3 linked regions of the Homo sapiens genome follow. The protein of the gene in region 1 purifies or fractionates together with the protein of each later gene. This does not show direct contact. Each region holds a gene or a part of one and is shown in the gene's direction. Other genes may lie near its edges.

What was found.
Region 2: the proteins of FANK1 (region 1) and ATG4B purify together in Homo sapiens (affinity purification with mass spectrometry; 3 studies listed by BioGRID and IntAct, with this or other methods). This does not show direct contact.
Region 3: the proteins of FANK1 (region 1) and UBXN2B purify together in Homo sapiens (affinity purification with mass spectrometry; 3 studies listed by BioGRID and IntAct, with this or other methods). This does not show direct contact.

The regions. Positions count from the first base shown.
Region 1 is NC_000010.11:125,892,148-125,899,648, forward strand, and holds the start of FANK1 (fibronectin type 3 and ankyrin repeat domains protein 1), read left to right. Parts: upstream 1-4,416; 5' UTR 4,417-4,495; coding exon 4,496-4,508; intron 4,509-4,658; exon of another isoform or gene 4,659-4,761; intron 4,762-7,501. UniProt on the Homo sapiens protein: Through the activation of JUN and AP-1-mediated transcription, may regulate apoptosis.
Region 2 is NC_000002.12:241,640,639-241,647,746, forward strand, and holds part of ATG4B (cysteine protease ATG4B), read left to right. Parts: intron 1-7,108. UniProt on the Homo sapiens protein: Cysteine protease that plays a key role in autophagy by mediating both proteolytic activation and delipidation of ATG8 family proteins. Required for canonical autophagy (macroautophagy), non-canonical autophagy as well as for mitophagy.
Region 3 is NC_000008.11:58,428,300-58,435,407, forward strand, and holds part of UBXN2B (UBX domain-containing protein 2B), read left to right. Parts: intron 1-2,219; coding exon 2,220-2,370; intron 2,371-4,860; coding exon 4,861-4,944; intron 4,945-6,095; coding exon 6,096-6,205; intron 6,206-6,558; coding exon of another isoform or gene 6,559-6,616; exon of another isoform or gene 6,617-6,804; intron 6,805-7,108. UniProt on the Homo sapiens protein: Adapter protein required for Golgi and endoplasmic reticulum biogenesis. Involved in Golgi and endoplasmic reticulum maintenance during interphase and in their reassembly at the end of mitosis.

The DNA.
Region 1 (7,501 bases):
AATCCAGTCTATCACCCCACTGTCATCCCTGGCTTCTCCTTCCTCATCTCCTATATCACCAAGATCTGCCAATTCTACCTTTTTTAGTGGCCCCTCCTTCTTATTCCCACCATCGCTCTCCTGGTTCTCTTCATTTCTTCACTGAGCTTCAGCAACATCTCCAATTTTTTTGTCTCTCATTTAGGCTCTCTACCAATCTGTCATTTGAGTGTTGCCAGTGATCCTTTCCAAATGCAAAACTGATCCAGTCACTGACCCAAATCCTCCTTATTACCTTTAAGGAAAATAAACTCATGGTCCTTAGGTTCCTTCTGATTTGGCCCACATTTGCCTTTCTGGGCTTACTTCCTCCCATTTTCTGCTAATACACATGAAGAAGTATTCTCCAGTTCAGCCACAATAAACCACGGCTTAGTTGTTCTCCCGGCCTTCGTGCCTCAGCCCAGGCTGTTCTGCTTCGGAAGCACCTGGTCATTTCCTGTTTACCCTTTATGACATGCAATTCCAGAGCCCAGGAAGTACCTAACACATTGTGAATGTGGAATCAATGTCTGCTCTATGCCTAAGTCAATAACAGCCCTTTATATTAAAAAAGTTCATTACGACATACAAGATATTTTCATTCATAATCTATAATCACATTTATCTTGATTCTCACAACTAGACTATCAGACAACCATTGCAGGTTTTATTATCCCAAGTTATCAATGACAAAATAATAGCTTCTGGTTTTCCAAAAGGGCAAAGCTAGAAATTAATGCAATGACCCCTAACTAAAGGTTTGACCTCTCTATTATTACCCTACTTAAATTATCAGGTACACAATGAAGACCACCATGTGCTAAAAGCAACACAGAAGAAGCGTAAGTCATGCACTTAGCTCCAAACATATTTAATCCAGTCAGAGGTACAAGATCCATCCATATGAGATAAAATTCTATAGGAAAGCATCCTACAGAGCTAAATGCTAAACCGTGTAGCACCCCCAGTAGGAGAGCGAAGTGCATTTAGTGGGCATTAGCCTAATCCTGAAAGACTTTCCAGAAACTGGGGCAGCATGCTCCTGCAGTCCCATTTATTTATTTATTTATTTAACTTTTATTTTATTTTTTTTGAGACGGAGTCTTGCTCTGTCACCCAGGTTGGAGTACAGTGGCCCAATCTCGGCTCACTGCAAGCTCCGCCTCCCGGGTTCACGCCATTCTCCTGGCTCAGCCTCCCGAGTAGCTGGGACTACGGGCGCCCGCCACCATGCCCGGCTAATTTTTTGTATTTTTAGTAGAGACGGGATTTCACCGTGTTACCCAGCATGGTCTCGATCTCCTGACCTCGTGATCCGCCTGCCTTGGCCTCCCAAAGTGCTGGGATTACAGGCGTGAGCCACCGCGCCCGGCCAGTGTCCTTTAGACTGTGGACGAGTAAAGGGCGGAGAGATAGACATTCCATTTGAGTGCAACAAATTGAATGTAGACCATGACAAGTTTGGAGAACAAAGAGGAAAACACCAAAAATAGAAATTGATTGTTTTCCACCTTTGACAGAACTCCCTAAGAGTTTCAGAAAGTATCAGATAGAGAAAAAAGTACCCTCACTCTGGTAAAGAAAACAAAAATCAACAAAAACCCTAAAACCAACAAAAACAAAAATGAAAACTTCCTTCAACTTACCACAGTAAGGCTAGAAGACAGAACTATTAATAACATGTTCATTTGCTACATTTTTTATCAACCTATTTGCATTAAATAATGTTAACCTCCCACTAAAGTTATTTCTACTTTGAATTCTGAGGTAGTCAAGAGATTTAAATAAGAAAAAGACTACATCTGTCTCTTCATTGTTACTTTGTTATTCCCGATCCATAATGCTTCAGTTTGCTACATTTAGTTAAACATCAGCAAAGTAAACAATAATGTAACTATTCTATCTAGTAATGAGCTTGGAGACTTAAAAAAATATATATAGAACTTTATTCCTTTTCATTTGACCACTAATAACATACTGAACATGCCCGTGAAAAGAAATAAAACACAATGGTAGAAAACTCCAAAAAGGTAGAGTGTCTTTACCATTCATCCCCCACCCCTATCTCATTAGCAACTTTCTGATCTCGGGTGTTTTCTCCAATAGTAAAGTGTATCCCTATATCCAAAACAATTTCTCTAAAGCCCTTCTCACTCATTCAACAAACATTTAACAGGTACATTGCACAAGGTGATAGAGGAAGAGAAACTGAATATTGTCCCTGCCTCGGACATTTCAGTGCCTTTACGCCTGACTTCCACTCCTAACCAGTCTTCTTTCACAGGTACCCTGTCCCCTAAAATCAAATGTTGCTTTTCACAGTTGCCTTTACTTGTCACCTAAAGTATTTCAATTCAAAATTTCCTCAAAGTCAACTTAACAGCTGCTGATAAAATAATCATTCTATATGATTACAAAGTGTTTCACCAATACATATCCCCATTTTTTCCAAACTTAAAACTTCTTCAGTCCTTATTACTTTAGCATAGAGACCTGCACTGTTGTTTCTTCTTTTTAAAAAAATACTAATGCTAATCCTTTACTGTTTGAGCAGACTTAATCCTACCTTTTCTTTTGTCAATAAATGCCAGGTGTTTTTTAAATCACTATCTTGTCACTTTTGATTATGATATACTGATCACTCTATTTGTATCTTGAATGAAAAGACCGCTTTGTGATTTTGCTAATGATATGTAAACTAGAACTTGAGAACCACTGGATACAGGAGTACTGCTGATCTTTATACTTTCTGTCTAAAAATGAAGCCCCTGTCTCTAAATTTCAGGAACAGGGAGTTAAGGTTCCATGAAGTGTTTACTTTCCACCCTTAATTTATTACCTTAATACTTCAGCTTAAGAATTATGTGTTCTGTATATATCACGCTGCTTGTCAATATCCACACATAAACCTTCTTGTTTTGACAATTAATCTGAAAAAGTCCCCATATAGTCTGAGAGGGGGAAAACCTAATTTGGAAGAATATAATAAATGTCAGTTTCCATCACAGAATATATGCTTCTCAAGTTCAATTAACCTCTCAATGATTCCCTAAGAGGAAAGTAATTCTCCTTAGTGTCCTTGTCATCCATGGAGTGGAAATCTTTCTACTGGCAAGATTAGTAATCACTTCCATGACCCCCAAAACGGCTCTTCCTTCCATTTCCCTCAAGTACTGTCTGGAGCAGCGGTTGGAATTAATAGAGGGGCCATAATCTCCAGACCTGAATACCAAATCAATCCTGCAGCCCCCCACACCCTTAATGCCCCTGCACTTTCTTGCTTATCCTTTTTCTCTCGTCTCCATTTTTCTTTCCTCCTTCTGGTGTTCCGGAACCTATGATACTCTCCTGGTTGTTTGAATTTTTACAACCTACCAGATAATAATCTCTTGTGATCCTCAAAGCTTCCTTAAAGCAAACCCTGAATCACTGTGTTTTAAAACCAGTATGAAAGACTATTGTGTGGGATAATGTTACATTGTTTCACAGCCCTACAAAGTTTGGCCACAAAACGTGTGGGCAGATTCCGTAACTCAACCGGAAACGCGAAGGACTGAAACAAATCAACACACAAAAAACGAAGCCAGCGAGAAAGATCCAACCCGGGCCCCCTGCCTGAAATGGGACACGGGGATGACGGGGCAAAGCCGGGCAAAACCGTGCTCCTGGCTCTCGCGATTCAGGAGACGCGCCAGGCTCACTGGGGACGACAGCGACGACGGCGGCGGCTCGCATTGCTCCACGCTTCCCGTCAGGGGGGCTCGAGGGACCGCCCCAGGCCCGGCCCATGCCCGGGCTCGGAGGGAGCCCCTGGTGCGAGGGCTGCCCGCAGGGCTCCGTCCTCCCGCTGAGGCGCGGCTCCCGGAGCAGGAGGCGCGGAGGCCGCCCTCGGCGTTTCGGAGTCGGGGCGGGGAACGTCCACGGCCAACTGCGGGCAGGGGACCCCCAGGCGGCTACAACAGGTGCGCCGGGGCCGCCCACCCGGCTCGGGGCGCGCCCGCCCCTGCGCCGACCCCCGACCCCTTCCGCCGCCGGGGCCCCGCTGTTACCTGCAGCGGCGGCTCCCGATTCCCGGGAGGGCGGCCCAGGGCCGGCGCCTTACCCGCGGGCAGGCCCACTCGCCCGACGGACGCCGCGGGTCGGCGACAGCGGGGACCGCGGGTCGGCGACGTCGGGGCACAGGTCCTGCGGGGCCGCGGGGGCCGCCAGGGAGGGCGCGACCGCCTGACCGGGCTTCAGGAGCAGTGTCCTCAGCCGGTGACCTGGCCGCTACCCTCGCTCAGTGTCCCCGGCGACGCGCGGGTCCTCACGCGCTCCCTCACTTCCTGCGGCTTTTGGTCCCTCCCGCTCGCCGTCCCTTTAGTTCTGCCCACTTCGCCTCCGGGTTGTCAGGGCAACCGTAGCGACGCCGGCCCTGGCTGAGAGGCGTTAGGAGTCCGGGGGTTCGCCCGCGGAGGCCGGGGAGCAGCCGACCATGGAGCCCCAGAGTAAGGGAGGCCCGGGCTGGAGCTGGGACCGGGGCGGGCGACCGGGCTGGGGCTCCCCGGGAACGAGTGTGGGCGCCCCGCGCGCGACTCCGCAGGTTTCAACGCTCGGACACGGAAATACGGTTTGCGTCTCCTCGCGCTTTTCTCTCCTGGAGAGGGGAGAAGGGGGCTACATCCTGCCAAGTCTGTATGGTTGGGCCGCCGGCGCCCTAGAGTCCGCGCTGGGGGCTGGGAGCGACTGGAGAGCCCCGAGGTATGGGTGGGGAAGGGCGCAGCGACCCCAGCGTGCGTCTTCCTGAAACTTCGCCCGGACGGTTCCATTTACTCCTCCTCCTACTCATGATTTTAGTTTGGTAGTTTGGTTCATTAATTGTAAGTAGCCCATTTTTCTTCTAAAATGTCAGCAATTAAACACGTCCGAGGCTGGGTCTTGTATTTATTAGAGACCCCGTCTTACTCCCCGCCCCCCGCCCCACACCCCTAGTCTGCGACTTGAAGGAGAGAGAGAGAAAAGAAGAGCTTTGTCCAAGTGTATTTGATTCATTCTTAGGGGTTCTACAAGTTAGGACACTCAAAAAATGTTTGTAATCTCTTTTTCTGTTTTCCCATGTTGCTTTCGATGTATGGCAAAAGTTGTGCAGTTTTGAGTTATCAGATCTAAACACGAGCTCTAACTTACTATTTTTGTTGTTGTTTTTACCTTTCCAGGGACTTTGTTTCAAGGCCTTTCTTTCTCTGCCCCGCCTAAGCTGTCTTATTGTTCCTTTTGTTCTCAAAATAAGGGGAGTGTTTTGTATGGAGACTTAAAATTTATCTAAAACCTTTATAGAAGGATGCAGTTTGACTCTCAAACCAAGTCGTCTTATCTTGTACAATTTCAGAAATGAAGAACTCAGACCAAATCTATTCTCTGGGGAAAATGTTGGCATTTTTAAAGGTCATTCGTTTTCCACCAAGAAAGTTTCAAATACTTTTCCTTTTAACTCATTTGCTGAGGAGAAAGCTTGCAAGTTGTGACTTATAGTTGCTTGATAGATTTTGTACAGTATTTGTCATTTGCATTTACAGCTCTTTGGATTCTACATTTTTTTAACCTAGTAAAAGAAATTTAGCATACAAGAACGCTAAAATTTTTGTTTTATGTCAAACTGATGGCAGGCTGTGTATATTCCCGCCTTAGAGAAGTGAGTTGAAATATACCTTTTAAAAACAGCAACTTGGCCTGGCCCGGTGGCTCACGCCTGTAATCCCAGCACTTTGGGAGGCTGAGGCAGGCGGATCACGAGGTCAGGAGATTGAGACCATCTTGGCCAGCATAGTGAAACCCATCTCTACTAAAATACAAAAAAAAAAAAAAAAAAAAAAAAAAAAAAAAAAAAGCCAGGTGTGGTGGCGCGTGCCTGGAGTCCTAGCTATTTGGGACGCTGAGGCCGAGGCAGGGGAATCGCTTGAACCCGGGAGGCGGAGGTTGCAGTGAGGCCAGATTGCACCGCTGCACTCCAGCCTGGTGACAGAGCGAGACTCCATCTCGAAAAAACAAAAAAAAGAACTTTATTTCTTCAGATTTATGTTACTGTTTTCATGTGTAAACTATAATTTCAAGTTCTTCAGTGCTGTCTTTATCCATTCATTCATTTATAGTGCCTGTTATGTTGCAGCTCTGTTCTAGGGATTGAGGATTGAACAACGGATCGGACAGTGTTAGTTTTGGTCATCCCAGGAAAACTAAGCAGAGGCTTGCTCAAGAACTCCTGAGGTCTTGGTGGGGTTCGGAGATTGGGGGAAGAGGAGATGGACAAAGGCTCCCAAGAGGAAGTAGTACTGGGTCTGCAGAATGACCCAGCAAAGAATGAGGGCAAGGGATTCCAGGCAGTGGGAATTACTTGTACATAGGCCCTGAGACCTGAGAGCAGCGTGGGTTTGAGGCTCACGGTAGGAAGATTAGTAAAGCTGTAGCTAAGGAGAGGAGGAGGAAAAAACAGGGTTGGAAGGAGGGAGGAGAAATGAGATAAGGCTGGAAAATTCAACCGGAGCCTGATCAGAAAGGTTCTGTAACCATGTGAGAAATGTATTACTTATGTGAACTATACATTTATATCTCATGTCATTGGATTTTGAGGTGGAAAATATTTAATTTATACCTGAGGAATGACTGTAAATTTCTTTCTTTCCACATATTCTTAAATTATTTCATCAATTTAATTTTAAATAATTCAATCACCATTTAGCTCAAGTTTTGTTGTTTTTTTTTTTTTTTGAGACAGGGTCTTGCTCTGTCACCCAGGCTGGAGTATAGTGGTGCGATCATAGCTCAGTACACCCTCGAACTCTTGGACTCAAGCAATCCTCTCACCTGAGCCTCCTGGCTAGATGTGACTACAGGTGTGTGCCACCATACCCCGCTAATTTATTTATTTATTTAGAGACAGAGTTTCGCTGTTGTTGCCCAAGCTGGAGTGCAATGATGTGATCTTGGCTTACTGCAACCTCCGCCTCCCGGGTTCAAGTAATTCTCCTGCCTCAGCCTCCCAAGTAGCTGGGATTACAGGCATGCGCCACCATGCCTGGCTAATTTTGTATTTTTAGTAGAGATGGGGTTTCTCCATGTTGGTCCGGCTGGTCTTGAACTCCTAACTTCAGGTGATCCTCCCGCCCTGGCCTCCCAAAGTGCTGGGATTACAGGCGTGAGCCACCGTGCCCGGCCCCTAATTTTCTTTTTAATTTTATTTACTTTGAATAGAGCTAAAGTCTGATTTTGTTGCCCAATTTGTTCTCGAACGCCTGGCCTCAAGTGATCCTCCTGCCTCGTCCTCCCAAAGTGCTAAGATTACAGGCGTGAGCCAGCACACCCAGCCTGGAAATTCTTTTACAGTCTAAGAAACATAATTTGGATAAATATTTACTACCATTCACAGTTACTAAATATTTAAAAGGACAAGATTAAATGATCTTTGAGGTTTCTTTTAACTTGGAGATTTGTATCCAACCAGATT
Region 2 (7,108 bases), on another chromosome or scaffold:
GGTGATTTGGGCCAAGGATGAGGAGGATTGGAATTGTAGCCAGGATGGCCAGGAAGGGTCTCACTCTGAAGGTTTAAGTTTTGACGAAGACTTAAAGCAGTGTAGGAGGAAGGGCAGGTAGCAAGAGCCTGGTGTGGCTCAGGTGCAGCGGGTGGCGGTGGGAGAAGCAGGAGCTGAGGATAGAAAGGTGACTTAGGCTCAGTGTAGTGGGGCCTTGCCAGCTCATAGTGAGGACTCGGTGTTTATTCTGAACAGGATGGCAGCTCATAGTGAGGACTCAGTGTTTATTCTGAACAGGATGGCAGCCGTTTGGAAGGTTTCATTCTAGAGGAGGAGTCACATGATAGACTGTGTTCAACAGGCTTGCTCTGGCATCTCTTTTGAGAATGTACTGCAGAGGGGCAAGGGCAGAGGCAGCGAGACCAGCTAAGAGACTGTTGAACAAGCCAGCAAGGAGATGCCAGTGGATTAGCTCAGGGTGGGTAAGAGGTTGACTTCTGCATGTGTTTTGGAGGTTGAGACAATAGAATTTGTTTGTAGATTGGAAGTTGGGAGAGGGATGGGTAGAGAGGGAGGAGTTAAAGATGGCCCCATAGTGTATGGCCTGAGCTAAGCAACTCAGATGGAGGGGGGCGGGCGTGGTGGCTCACGCCTGTAATCCCAGCACTTTGAGAGGCCGAGGTGGGCGGATCACAAGGTCAGGAGATCGAGACCATCCTGGCTAACACGGTGAAACCCCGTCGCTACTAAAAATACAAAAAATTAGCCGGGCATAGTGGCGGGCGCCTGTGATCCCAGCTACGCAGGAGGCTGAGGCAGGAGAATGGCGTGAACCCGGGAGGCGGAGCTTGCAGTGAGCCAAGACTGCGCCACTGCACTCCAGCCTGGGCGACAGAGCGAGACTCTGTCTCAAAAAAAAAAAAAAAAAGAAACTCAGATGGGGAAGACTTGGGGAGGTCCTGTCTGGTGGGAAGCTTTCTGTTGCGAGTTTGGATTTATGTGTGTTGAATGTGAGGTGGATGTTAGACATCCTTGTAGAGCAGTGTCCAGTGGGCTTTTGGGTCTACAGGTTTGGAGCTAAAAGAATAAGCCTGGGCTGGAGATAGACTGGAGGTCACATCAGATGAGGTCACCCAGGGTGTGAATGTGGGTGGGAAAGAAAAGAGGCCAAAGGCCTCTGCGGGTGTGGAGAGGTCCAGGAGGTGGCAGGCAGACCACAGTGTGGCTGTGTTCTCCACCAGTCCCTAGCACTGTCCCTAAAAGCATGCTCCCCATTCAGACGACTGGCAGGTGCCAGCACTTAAATAGCCACACTGCCCATTCCTTGAGGACAGAGCTGGTGTCTTGTGCTTGCATTTCTAGTGCATCACTTGTGTCTGGCATGTGGTTGGTAATAAAAAAAAAACAGAACTTGAATTAATAATAACCTACACATTCCCCTACTATCAAAGCTTTCAGTTTGTAGAGTTTAACATAAATCCAGTATGTTAGCATAACATGTAATGAATGCAGAGGCTGCTGGGGAGTGGTTTTTTTTTTTTTCTTGAGATGGAGTCTTGCTCTGTTTCCCAGGCTGGAGTGCGGTGGGCGCGATCTAGGGGAGTGGGTTTTAATGTGCGCAATCTGCCCAGTGTGTGCACTGAAACAGTGTTTTCTAGCTTTCTGATGTAGCTAAATTTGGAGTTCCTTTCTCTCTTTCTCTGTTTTCATTCAGGACTGAACTACTAGCATTCTCATGTAAACTCTTGGAGATTTAAAAAAAAGTAGTAATCATATGCAAACTGTTATCTTAAACCTAAGAGCTTTCTAAAGGAAAAGAAGAACCTTTGTTGAATTTATAAAATATAAATCTTTTGGAAAATAACTTCTAAGTGTTTTAGGAAGGTTTCTTCGAAATGAAGTGGTTTACAGTAAGCTCTTAAATTTACTCGTTTTTTTTTGTAGTCCTCTCTGGTTGAATGAAGTGTAATTGGTACTAAATGGAGAGAAGTTGGTTAAATTCATTGAGTACAATTCCCTACATTTCTGCCTGTCAGATTAGTAGTACTAAGTCACATGTTTTTTCTGATGGAATTACTATATTATTAAAATGCCATCTGCCCTCTTCTGCTTGTGATCGCAGAAGTCCCAGGGAAGAGGGCGTGGAAAATCAAGTGTCTGGGATCCAGCCGACCAAATGGGAGAACTGCTTCTAAGGGGGACTCTTTCTTAAGGTGTACAGCACCTCTCCGTCCTTTTTTTTTTTTTTTTTTTTTTTTTTAAGACGGAGTCTCACTGTCGCCCAGACTGGCTGGAGTGCAGTGGCTCTATCTCAGCTCACTGCAGCCTTCGCCTCCTGGGTTCAAGAGATTCTCCTGCCTCAGCCTCCCGAGTAGCTGGGATTACAGGTGTGCACCACCATGCCTGGCTAACTTTTTTATATTTTTAGTAGAGATGGGGTTTCACCATGTTGGCCAGGCTGTTCTCGAACTTCTGACCTCAAGTGATCTGCCCGCCTCGGCCTCCCAAAGTGCTGGGATTACAGGTGAACCACCACACCCAACCTACTTCTTCATCTTGTTCCTCCTGCGTGTCATCTTTTTTTGAGGCAGGGTCTCACTTCATCGCTCAGACTGGAGTATGGTGTTGCGGCCTCAGCTCATTGCAGCCTTGACCTCCTGGGCTCAAGTGATCTTCTTGCCTCACATTCCTCAGTAGCTAAGACTACAGATGTCCACGCCTAGCTATTTTTTTTTTTTTTTTTTTTTTAAGAGAGACAGGGTCTCCCTGTATTGCCCAGGCTGGTCTCAAACTCCTGGGCTCAAGTGATCCTCCCATCTTGGCTTCTTAAAGTGCTGGGATTACAGGCATGAGCCACGGCACCTGGCCTTACATGTCATCTTATTTCAAATTAATATCATTACCTGGAAGTCTAGAGATGGGTCTATATATTTATTTATGTATATATGTACATATATATATAAACATATATATACGTATATATACACATAAATATATACACATATATGTATAAATATATATATACGTGTGTGTGTGTGTGTGTATGTATATATTTTCCCCCCCCCCCGTCGTCCAGGCTGGAGTGCAGTGGCGTGATCTCGGCTCACTGCAACGGGGTTTTGCCATGTTGGCCAGGCTGGTCTTGAACCCTTGACCTCAGGTGATCCACCCACCTTGGCCTCCTAAAGTGCTGGGATTACAGGTGTGAGCCACTGCACCCGGCGAGTGGATATTTTTTCCGAAGTTTGACTCCTTTTCTATCAGGAGCTACATGAATTACCTTATAAATCACATGATGTGGCACGGGAAGATGATGAAATTATGACAGGGGCTATGAAATAAGACAAGGGAACCTCTCCATGGCGAATTGCTGAGGCAGCTGGTGTCAGGCCTAAGTGGATCTCATACATCTGAGAGTCAGTGAAGGAACAAGTGTGGTGGCTCACACTTGTAGTCCCAGCACTTTGGGAGGCTGAGGTGGGTGGATCACTGGAGCCCAGGAGTTTGAGACCAGCCTGCTTAACATAGGGAAACCCCACCTCTACAAAAAATACAAAAATTAGGCATGACGGTGCATGCCTGTAGTCCCAGCTACTCAGGAGGCTGAGGTGGGAGGATCCCTTGAGGCCGGAAGGGGGAGGTTGCAGTGAGCTGAGATCACACCACTGCACTCCAGCTTGGGTGACAGAGCCAGACCCTTGGGTGACAGAGCCAGAAGGAACGTTTGGGAATGGAATCATCGTGTTGGTCGATCTGCAGATGTTAGTGATTGTGAGCGTTAGTTTTGCACCCATTGTGGGTTCTCACCCCACTTGGAAAACTGGTGGCTGTGCCCCATTTCATGGGTGAGGAGACTGAGGCTGGAAGAAGTCCAGGCCTGTGTCTGTCCTGTAGCTATCGACCAGGCTCTCAGACTCCAGAAACAAACCTCAGTAGGAATCAGAAGTGTTGGCCGGGCGCGGTCTGCCTGTAGCTATCGAGCAGGCTGTCAGACTCCAGAACCAAACCTCAGTAGAAATCAGAAGTGTCGGCCGGTTGCGGTGGCTCATGCCTGTAATCCCAGCACTTTCGGAAGCTGATGTGGGCGGATCATCTGAGATGAGGAGTTCGAGACCAGCCTGACCAACATGGGAGAAACCCATCTCTACTAAAAATACAAAATTAGCCAGGCGTGGTGGCACACACCTGTAATCCCAGCTACTCGGGAGGCTGAGGCAGGAGAATCGCTTGAAACCGGGAGGCGGAGGTTGCAGTGAGCCGAGATCGTGCCATTGCACTCCAGCCTGGGTGACGAGCAAAACTCCATCTCAAAAAAAAAAAAAGAAAGAAATTAGAAGTGTTAATTCCAAAAAAGTTATCTTCCTCCATTATAAAGTAAGATCTGGAAGGTCAGGGAGGTCTTTGTACCGTTCTGATGCCTCAGTCCATGGCTCCTCATTGTGTCTTCCTCTTCAGCTGGAGCTGCGAGGGTGTCCAGGAGGGGTGAGTTCTGCTCGGAGGGCCTGCCGAGGGCATTCCTTCCTGTCCTCCAGCATGAGAGGGACAGTGTGGGGCCCCTAGAGTACAGGGAAGACCTCCTCATAACTGAAGAGATGCGAGTCTGAGAGTCTTTATTGGCTCTTTTGTAGGAATCGCTGCAGGTCTCTTTGGTCCTTGGAGCCAGCCCGTGAGGCCGGGGGCAGGCTCTTGCTCTCTAAATGCAGTCACTCTTGGAGGAAAGGACGTTATGTTGGATTCAGTGTTAGTAAAGAGACTCATGTTTGGTTGGGTCTCTGTTGACCTTGTACTCTGTGCTGCACCTCTGCTTACAGAATACCTCCCATCCATGCCGGTTCGTGACTGCTCACCCGTTTCAGTGATCTGAGAAGGCTGGCCCTGAAAGAGTGGTTACTGCTCCCGTGCAGTTTAGAGCTTTTCCTGCACCTTGACTTGTCCGTTTCACAGTGAGGACACCAAGTCACAAGAAGGTCACTAGCCTGTAAGGTTGCGTGACTGCTCAGTGGTGGGCTCAGACTTCTGACTCCACAGCTGGCGCTCCAGCTGTCAGGAACGTGCTCCAGGTGTGACGTGTGGACACTCCCCACTTGCAGCGTCCTCCACAGTACCGAGAGGAGGGTGCAGTGTGGTGGGAGAAGCAAGGGATCATGTTTTCAGAGTGTCCGCCACTAGCCCTAGGGGAATGTATGACTCGCTCCCAACAGAGGGCAGGATTCTCGGGGAGGGCCGGAGTGCGTTTCTCTGGACGGAGGAGCAGAGCAGCTTGGGGCACGGTGTGGGAGCCCTCCTTAGGGACCTCATGGGTCACGTTCGCCGTGGCTGCGCCACTCCTGTTCACTGCCAAGCACCGTGATTGCTCCTTGGATTTGCTCCCCTGGGGTTTCCTGGTCTCCTTGATGGTTTATACAGTGAGCAATCTGAGGCCACACACCTGTAATTTTCACAGTTATAGCTGGAGGTGTGGTGGTGTATTTGAACTTAATGGAACACCTCTTATTCCCTTCACTCTGAAGTTGGCTTCCTTGCCTATAAAGTTTGGTGATAAACCTAAGAAATACACCTGCTGTGCATTTTACTGCGTCCGTGATGAAAATCCCTCAACTTCACAGCCGCTCAGGCCTCGTGACCCTGCTTTCAGAGGGAGCCTTTTTCCTTTTCTTCCTTATCTATACTTCTCTCATTCCTTTACCATTTATATTTTTAATATGGGAAACTAGACATCCTAGAAGTTTCTCAGCTTCCAGATTCTGTTACTGCAGACTGTTACTGATTCAACAATATGGTCCTTTTCCTGATGACATACGCCACATTCTTCTGAAGTACAGATGGTCTCCAAACTACCATGGTTTGACTTACAATTTTTTGACTTTACGATAGTGTGAAAGCAGTATGCATTCTATGGAAACCATACTTGACGTTTTGAATTTTGATCTTTTTCTGGGCTAGCAGTATGCCTCCAGATACTCTCGAGATGCCAGATAGCTCCTCGTCAGCCACATCATGAGAAGGGGGAATGACCCCTGCTCTACAGGGCACTGTGTTGCCAGCTGAGTTTGCCCAACTGTAGGCTAATGTAAGTGTTCTGAGCACATTTAAGGCAGGCTAGGCTAAGCTATGATGTTAGGTAGATTACGTGTATTCAATGCTTTTTTTTTTTTTTTTTTTGAGACAGAGTTTCACTCTCCCACCTGGGCTGGAATGCAGTGGCGCGATCTCAGGTCACTGCAGCCTCCGCCTCCTGGGTTTAAGCAATTCTCCTGCCTCAGCCTCCCGAGTAGCTGGGATTACAGGCACCTGCCACCATGCCCGAGTAACTTTTTGTGTTTTTAATAGAGATGGGATTTCACCATGTTGACCAGGCTGGTCTCCAACTCCTGACCTCAGGTGATCCACCCGCCTTGGCCTCCCCAAGTGCTGGGATTACAGGCATGAGCCCCTGTGCCTGGCCTCAGTGCATTTTTGACCTAAGTATTTTCAATTTACAATGGGTTTATTGGACATAATCCCATCCTAATTAAGGAACATCTGTAGTCTACAAAGAGATACTTGCCAGTGTTCATTTAGCTCTGCTGTACTTTAAATAAAAGATATGTGTATCTTTAGTTCAAAGCTGGTGCCTTGGAACGGTGTCAAACATGAGAAGAATGTTCCAACAGCAAGATGGAATCATTGTCTTGCAGTGTTGAAATTAGACCGGTGGTGGCCAGGCGCAGTGGCTCACGCCTGTAATCCCAGCACTTTGGGAGGCCGAGGCGGGAGGATCATGAGGTCAGGAGATTGAGACCATCCTGGCTAACACAGTGAAACCCCGTCTCTACTAAAAAAAATACAAAAAATTAGCCAGGCGTGGTGGCGGGCGCTTGTAGTCCCAGCTACTCAGGAGGCTGAGGCAGGAGAATGGCATGAGCCGGGAGGCAGAGCTTGCAGTGAGCCGAGATCGCGCTACTGCACTCCAGCCTGGTGGGCGACAGAGTGAGACTCCGTCTCAAAAAAAAAAAAAAAAAAAAAGAAAAGAAATTAGACCGGTGGTGTTTTCATCCTTTTTCCTTGAGAATAAGTTTTCTGGATTTTAGTCTATATATTGAATAAAGCCTACAGGTCAAAGAATAGT
Region 3 (7,108 bases), on another chromosome or scaffold:
GTGGGTAACCCCTATCACAATTTTCATTCAACTTGTACTGGAGGTTTTAGTCAGCACAATGAGATTAGAAAAACAAAAGTATACAAATTGGAAATAAATAAAGCTCATTATGTGTAATGACATAATTGCATACAAAGAAAACTGTAAAAGACTGATTCTTTTTCTGATTCCTCTGGTCATTTTGATGTTTTCCTCCTGTGTTCCTCTTCATTCCTAGAATTTTGTCCCTTGTCCTCTGTGCTTATCTAAGTCCTAATGTCCTAAATCCTTTTAAGGCCCAGCTGAGTACTAATTCTGTACTACAGATGCCTATCTTTTATTCCTTTTCACTTATATTTAATAAGTTAGTTTGAATGAGTATAGAGAATTACTTCAGCAATCAATAAATATTTTTGCCCCAAACATTCATGAAGAATTAAAGTTGAGGACTTACACTGCTGCATGCAAAGACTTATTGTAAAGCTGCAATGGTTAAGAGAGTAAGAACTGACAGTAGACCATGGACCAAAATACGAGAACTCAAGAATCATAGGCAACTTGATTTATGACAGTGCAGAGCAGTGAGGGGCAGAATTTCATTAGGTGGTACTGGGACAAATGGACATTTATGTAGAGAAAAAATAGTTCTTGTCCTCTACCTTATACCACCTATAAACGTCAGTTCCATATGGGTTGTGGATCTAAATATAGAAATTAAAACAAATTTCTGGAAGAAAATAGAATATCTTTATGACCTTAGAGTAGGCAAAGATTTCAAATAATAAAAACCGTTAACCGTAAAGGAGATAGGAAATCATTTGCTATGACCGATTTTTGCGGTAAGGTCTTTCTCACTAAGACTGAGATAAAAAGGAATGATTATTCACTTTGCCAGATTAGAGATGTGGAAAGCCTTGAAGGTGACTTCCATTCCTCGTTTCCAGGGCACTCCAGAGAGGGGAGGAGTGTTACGGCAGCAGACAGCTGCAGCAGGAAGTGTTGCTTTGCTTTTCTGTGTTTGTCGTCGCTCCCTAAAATAATCTGCTTCTAACACTAAGGCTTGTCTTAAAAGCCAACTAGGGCAGTGTTCAACCTTGCTTGCTACTCTGGACCCTTGAGTGTAAGCTTGGGACAAGGGCTTCCATAGGCTCCTGCTCTAGATAAATTTGGGCCCAGTGTACTTCTCCAGAGCACTGGCAGGATGAAGCCCCACCTCCACCTTCTGCAGTTTGTGGGGTTTAGTAGGGTTCTCCTGGTGTCTCCTTGTTCTCCATCCTGATGGATCTTTTCCTTCCTTTACTGCAAAGTGAGAGCTGGTCTGTTCTTTCCTCTATCTTACTCAGTTTTGCATATTCTAATTTAGGAGAAAGCCTTGAAGGTGAATTCCATTCCTAGTCTCCAAGGCAGATATCATTTCCCCCCATTGTTTTGTTCTATGTGTCAGTTCAGTGTGAATTTGGAATTGGATTGGAGAGTTATAAGTATTTTAACAACTGAAGTTTGATTGTCATCTTACCCTGGAAGTCTCCATGTTGATACTTCATTGTTTATAGTTTCTGATATTCTTGATAGAAAAAAATCTTGAAAGATAAAAGTAGGTTATTAATCTTACGTAAAGGTAATTTTTATGTTTCCTAGGACCATTTATGAAGTTGGAGTCAAAGTAGAAATTGGTCGCCAAAAAATTACTGTCTAAATTATTTACTTTTAACAAACGCAGGGGCTTTTAAGGGAGTAGGTCTCTTAAATCCAAAAATCTCTGAAAGATAAATCCTCTCTAGATAACCCTTTAGTTTAGAATTAGCTGTTTATACTGTCTAAATCTAAAGATCTCGTCACTAACTAGGTCTCTACTGAGTGTGGCCTTCTTAGGGAGAAGGGACTATCTTTTGACTGTTGACACTGCTTTTCCTTCTACATCAGAAGTGCTGAATTAGTGAATGAGATGTATGTGATAAGCAGTTACAGAAGGCTGAGGGATCAGCAAGCAAGCCAGTTGCCGTGCTGGAGGCTGAACTTGCCCTTAGAATCAATCTTTGCAAACTCAGTGAGAAAGTATATGATTTCCTATTTATTATACTTTTCCTTAATCCCATTTTAAAAATTAAATATTCTCATAGAAGTCAAAATAATGCCTCTTTTTAAATAAAATACTTTTATTTTCATAAGACTATGTAGCTTTTTACTTCAGTTTATGTCTGTTATCCTAAGTTTTTATTCATGAACTAAAATGTTTAAAGGTTTTACTCAAGTGAACATGAATACAGTGGATTAAATATAGTTCGACCTTCAACTGGGAAAATTGTGAATGAACTTTTCAAAGAGGCAAGGGAACATGGGGCTGTCCCTCTGAATGAAGCCACAAGAGCTTCAGGTGATGATAAATCTAAGGTCAGTGCTCAATTTTAAACTAAATACATTGTTTCTATATTTTACCTCCTCTTTCATTTTTCTATTATTTGCAAACATTGTTTTTCTAATTGTATATTTCTGTTTTAAATATTTGTTTCATTTTTATAAAATTATAATATTTCTATTAATGATTGAAAGTTGAGACAATTTCTTACATTTCTGAACAACTTTTTAATTTACCTTTTAATTACAAAATAATTAGTAGAGTCACAGGCATTTGCAAAAAGAATACAGGGAGGTTTCATGTACCTTTCACTTCAATGGTTTCCCCCAATGGTTCCCCCCAATGGTTACGTTTCACATGATTGTAGTATAATATGAAAGCCAGGAATTTGGCATTTCTCTCTGTCTATGTCCTTTTATCACATGTGTAATCACCCAACTGAAACTCTCCTTCATAGCCTACCATTTGCACTCACACCCACCCCGTCTCTCATGCCATCCCTAACCTCTAGCCAATACCAGTCGGGTTTTCATCTCTATAATTTTATCATGTTAAGAGTGTTAAACCAGCCGGGTGTGGTGGCTCATGCCTGTAATCCTAGCACTTTGGGAGGCCGAAGCAGGCAGATCACAGTTCAAGACCAGCCTGGCCAACATGGTGAAACTACAGTGTTATACAAATGGAGTCATACAATATGTGACCTTTTGGAATAGCTTTTTTCACTTGGCATAATGCCCTTCAGATCTGTCAGAGTTATTGCTTGTATCACAACTTTGTTCCTTTTTAATTCCCGAGTAGCATTTTATATAGATATACCACAGTTTAACCATTCATTTATTGAGGGATATTTTAGTTGCCAGCTTTTGACTATTACAAATAAAGCTGCTGTGAGCAATTGGGTACAGGTTTTTTTACTCACTTATGGTTTTATTTCTCTGAGATAAATGCTCAGAAGTGCAATTGGTAGATCATACATTAAGTGTATGTTTAGTTTAAGAAACAGCCAAACTATTTTCCAGAGTGGTTGTGCCATTTTATATTCCCACATATATGAGAGAGCAAGTTTCTCTGCATCCTTTTCAGCACTTGGTATTGTCACTATTTTTAATTTTAGCCATTTTGATGGGTGTATAGTGATAACATGCCATGGTTTTATTTTATTTGTCTAATAACTAATGATGTTAATTTGCATTTTCTTAATAGCTAGTGATGAACATCGTTTCATGTGCTTCCTTGCCATTATCTGTATTATTCTTTTCAAGGAAATATCTCTTCATTACTTTCCCATTCTCTAATTGGATTATTTTGTTACTGTTGAGTTTTGAGAATTCTTTGTATATTTTAATAGGTATGGGTCCTTTGTCAGATACATGGTTTGTAAATATTTTCTCTCAGAATGTCATTCATATTTTTATCCTCAGCAGGATTTTTCACTAAGGAAAAGCTATAAACTTGGATAAAGTCCAATTTATTCCTTTTTTTTCTTTTATGGATCATGCTTTTGCTGTATTGTCTAAGAACTTTTTACTTAACTGTAGGTCCCAAATATTTTCTCCTTTGTTATCTGGAAAAATGTTACAGCTTTACATTTAAAGCTATGATCTATTTGAATTTTTTATATAAGGTGTGAGGTTGACACCAGAGTTTATTGTTTTGCTTATGGATGTCCAGTTGCTCCAGCATCACTTCTTGAAAGGCACTCCTTTCTCCATTGAATTGCTTTTGTACCTTTCTAAATTTCTTTTTTTTTTTTTTTTTTTTTTTTTGAGACAGGGTCTCGCTCTGTTGCCCAGGCTGGAGTGCAGTGGCACCATCTGGGCTGACTGCAAGCTCCGCCTCCCGGGTTCACACCATTCTCCTGCCTCAGCCTCCAGAGTAGCTGGGACTACAGGCACCCGCCACCACACCCAGCTAATTTTTTGTATTTTTAGTAGAGACGGGGTTTCACCATGTTAGCCAGGGTGGTCTCGATCTCCTGACCTCGTGATCCGCCTGCCTCGGCCTCCCAAAGTGCTGGGATTACGAGCATGAGCCACCTCTATACAGCTTTTATAATTGTTACCAACTGACACAATATTGATATACTAAAGACGAACAGTTACGTGTCTTTTGTGGTATCATTTCATACATTCTTACAAGTAGCATTTCTCAACCTGGAATTTCTCCATCAGAATCATTTGGGGAGGTTATCTAAACTACCTGATGGCTTCAGGTATTATGGTTCAATAAATTTGGGATATGCCTAGAAACGTGTCTTTTTAAAAAAGCCTCTATGATAATTTTGACATCCATTGTTGAGAACCACTGCTGTAATGAAACTTAAATTTTGGTTTTCATTTCATTATTCGTCAATGGTTTGAAATGATCTTTTAGTCAAGTCTTATGGTAATTTTGGTTCTTGAAGGCTCCCCAGTATGAGCCACTTTGGCTAATTAGAATTAATCTAGTTTTAAAATACATATCACATAATAACTTTTTGCTGAATAATCCTTTGTGAATTTTAACTCACTTGCTATGTATTTTAGTCATTTACAGGTGGAGGATACAGATTGGGTAGTTCTTTTTGTAAGCGGTCTGAATATATCTATGGAGAAAATCAGCTGCAAGATGTAGGTACAATAATCAAAATGAAAAAGTATAAATATTTGCTTCTAGTTACTAAAACTGTTGGTTTTAAAATTAAGAATTGATAATACAAATATATTTTTGTTACTTTTTAAAACATGGGTTAAAAGGACCAATGATGTGTGAGTTTTCAGTCTCGATCTTTATGTTTTGTATCACAATTATGCCTTGCACTTAGAGATATGGAACTATTTGTTGAAAGAATGTGTGATTCATTTTCCAAATGAATTTGCAGCCAGGCGTGGTGACATGCATCTGGAGTCCCAACTACTCCAGAGGCTGAGGTAGGAGGATCACTTGAGCCCAGAAGTTCAAGGCCAGCCCGGAAAACATAGCCAGACCCTATCTCTTTAAAAAAAAAAAAAAAAAAAAGGTGTTTAAAAAAATGAACTTGGGCCAGGCACAGTGGCTCACGCCTATAATCCTAGCACTTTGGGAGACTGAGGTGGGCAGATTGTTTGAGCCCAGGAGTTCGAGACCACCCTGGGCAACATAGTAAGACCCTGGATCTTTAAGATAAAAAAATCAATTAAAAAAAGAAAAATGAACAAATATATAGTTATTATTATAAATGGTATATTTTCATAATCTAAAATGAGGTGAGGTGTAAATGAAGAACACCTAAAGTCATTCTTTGTTTCTGTTGCCTTTTGAAATTTTGGAGTTTTAATTTTATTTTAGACATTGATAGTTTCTTGGAAGGTCACTGGAAATTCTGTTCCCCTTAGGATGAATATTTAAGCTCTGTAGCAAAGAAGAGTATGGGTGCAGATGAAGGAAAATGAAGGAAGTGGGAATCATGGAGTACAGCTCTTCTCATTGCTTTCATTTTCTTGTGAACCATCCACCAATAATTGTACTTCGAGGCCAGGGTCCACCTGCAGGACCTTTGGTATTTGCAGCCATTGTCAGTTTGTTAAGCTGAATGCAAACTAGCTAAACAAACACATGTGGTTTCATTAATGTCTTTCACTATGAATAAAGAATAGTAGAAATAACTCCCTATTTTAAATTAAGTAAATACGTTTTAGGATATCACATTTGGAACTTAAAATTATTTGGGGGAGATATATTCTTATGTATATGTGAATATATATATATATATATATATTTTTTTTTTTTCTATACCCAAAAGGTTCAGATTTTGCTTAAACTGTGGAGCAATGGTTTCAGTTTAGATGATGGAGAATTGAGACCTTACAATGAACCAACAAATGCTCAATTTCTGGAGTCTGTTAAGAGAGGGTAAGATGTATTATTTGTATTCTATTTGTTATGTAGAGTGGGACTTATTTTCTTAACAGACTACTCATTATTAGTGCACTACGGGTTTTCAAGAAGTAGTTCCTGGAATATATTAAATAAATGGTTGCTGGGGGTGTAGGTATTCTTAAGTTTATAAAGGATATACTGCTATCTGTATGTAAGTCACTGGTTCTTAATTTTGTGGGCCAGGGGCATTGGACATTGGCCCATTTTAAAATCTGATGAAACTATGAACCCAGCTCCAAGAAGAAACATCTTAATGTGATAATCAGTGAATTAATTAGTATGTAGCTGCCCACCCACTAAGCCACTGTCCTGCTTACTGTTGACAGGGTGACTCTCATTGCATGTATGCCTGAAATTCAGCAACTTATGTTAGAAATCTTTTAATGTGGCATTACTGCTGGCAGAAGATTTCAAAAGGTTAGTTTGAAGTTATAATTTGTGAAAGTAAACTCAGATATTCAGTGCTCTCACCCATCCAAAGAACATTGTAACTTACCAGCTCTTCTTGCTAAAGGATGAGGAATCAAGTGATTTTGCTATGATAATAAAAGCTTTTCTGTGTTATGATTAAACTAGCTGAAAGTGGAGTTATTTCTAAGTAGATATGCAACTAAAGACATAAAGTTGAGCATAAACTGGGGAATTAAGTTGTAGGAAAGGATCAGAGTTTTACTGTATATAACCAGAGTTATATATACAGGGTTATACTCCATAAAGGAATAGAAGGTGGAACATTTCCAAATGTTGAAATATGTCCAGGATGAGTGGCTGACATGGAGTGGAGGTTAAATTCGTCTTTTAGAAGACTAATTAGCATGAATTTTGAATTTAAATTATATACAGATACTGTCAGGATACCAAACAAAGGCAACAAAT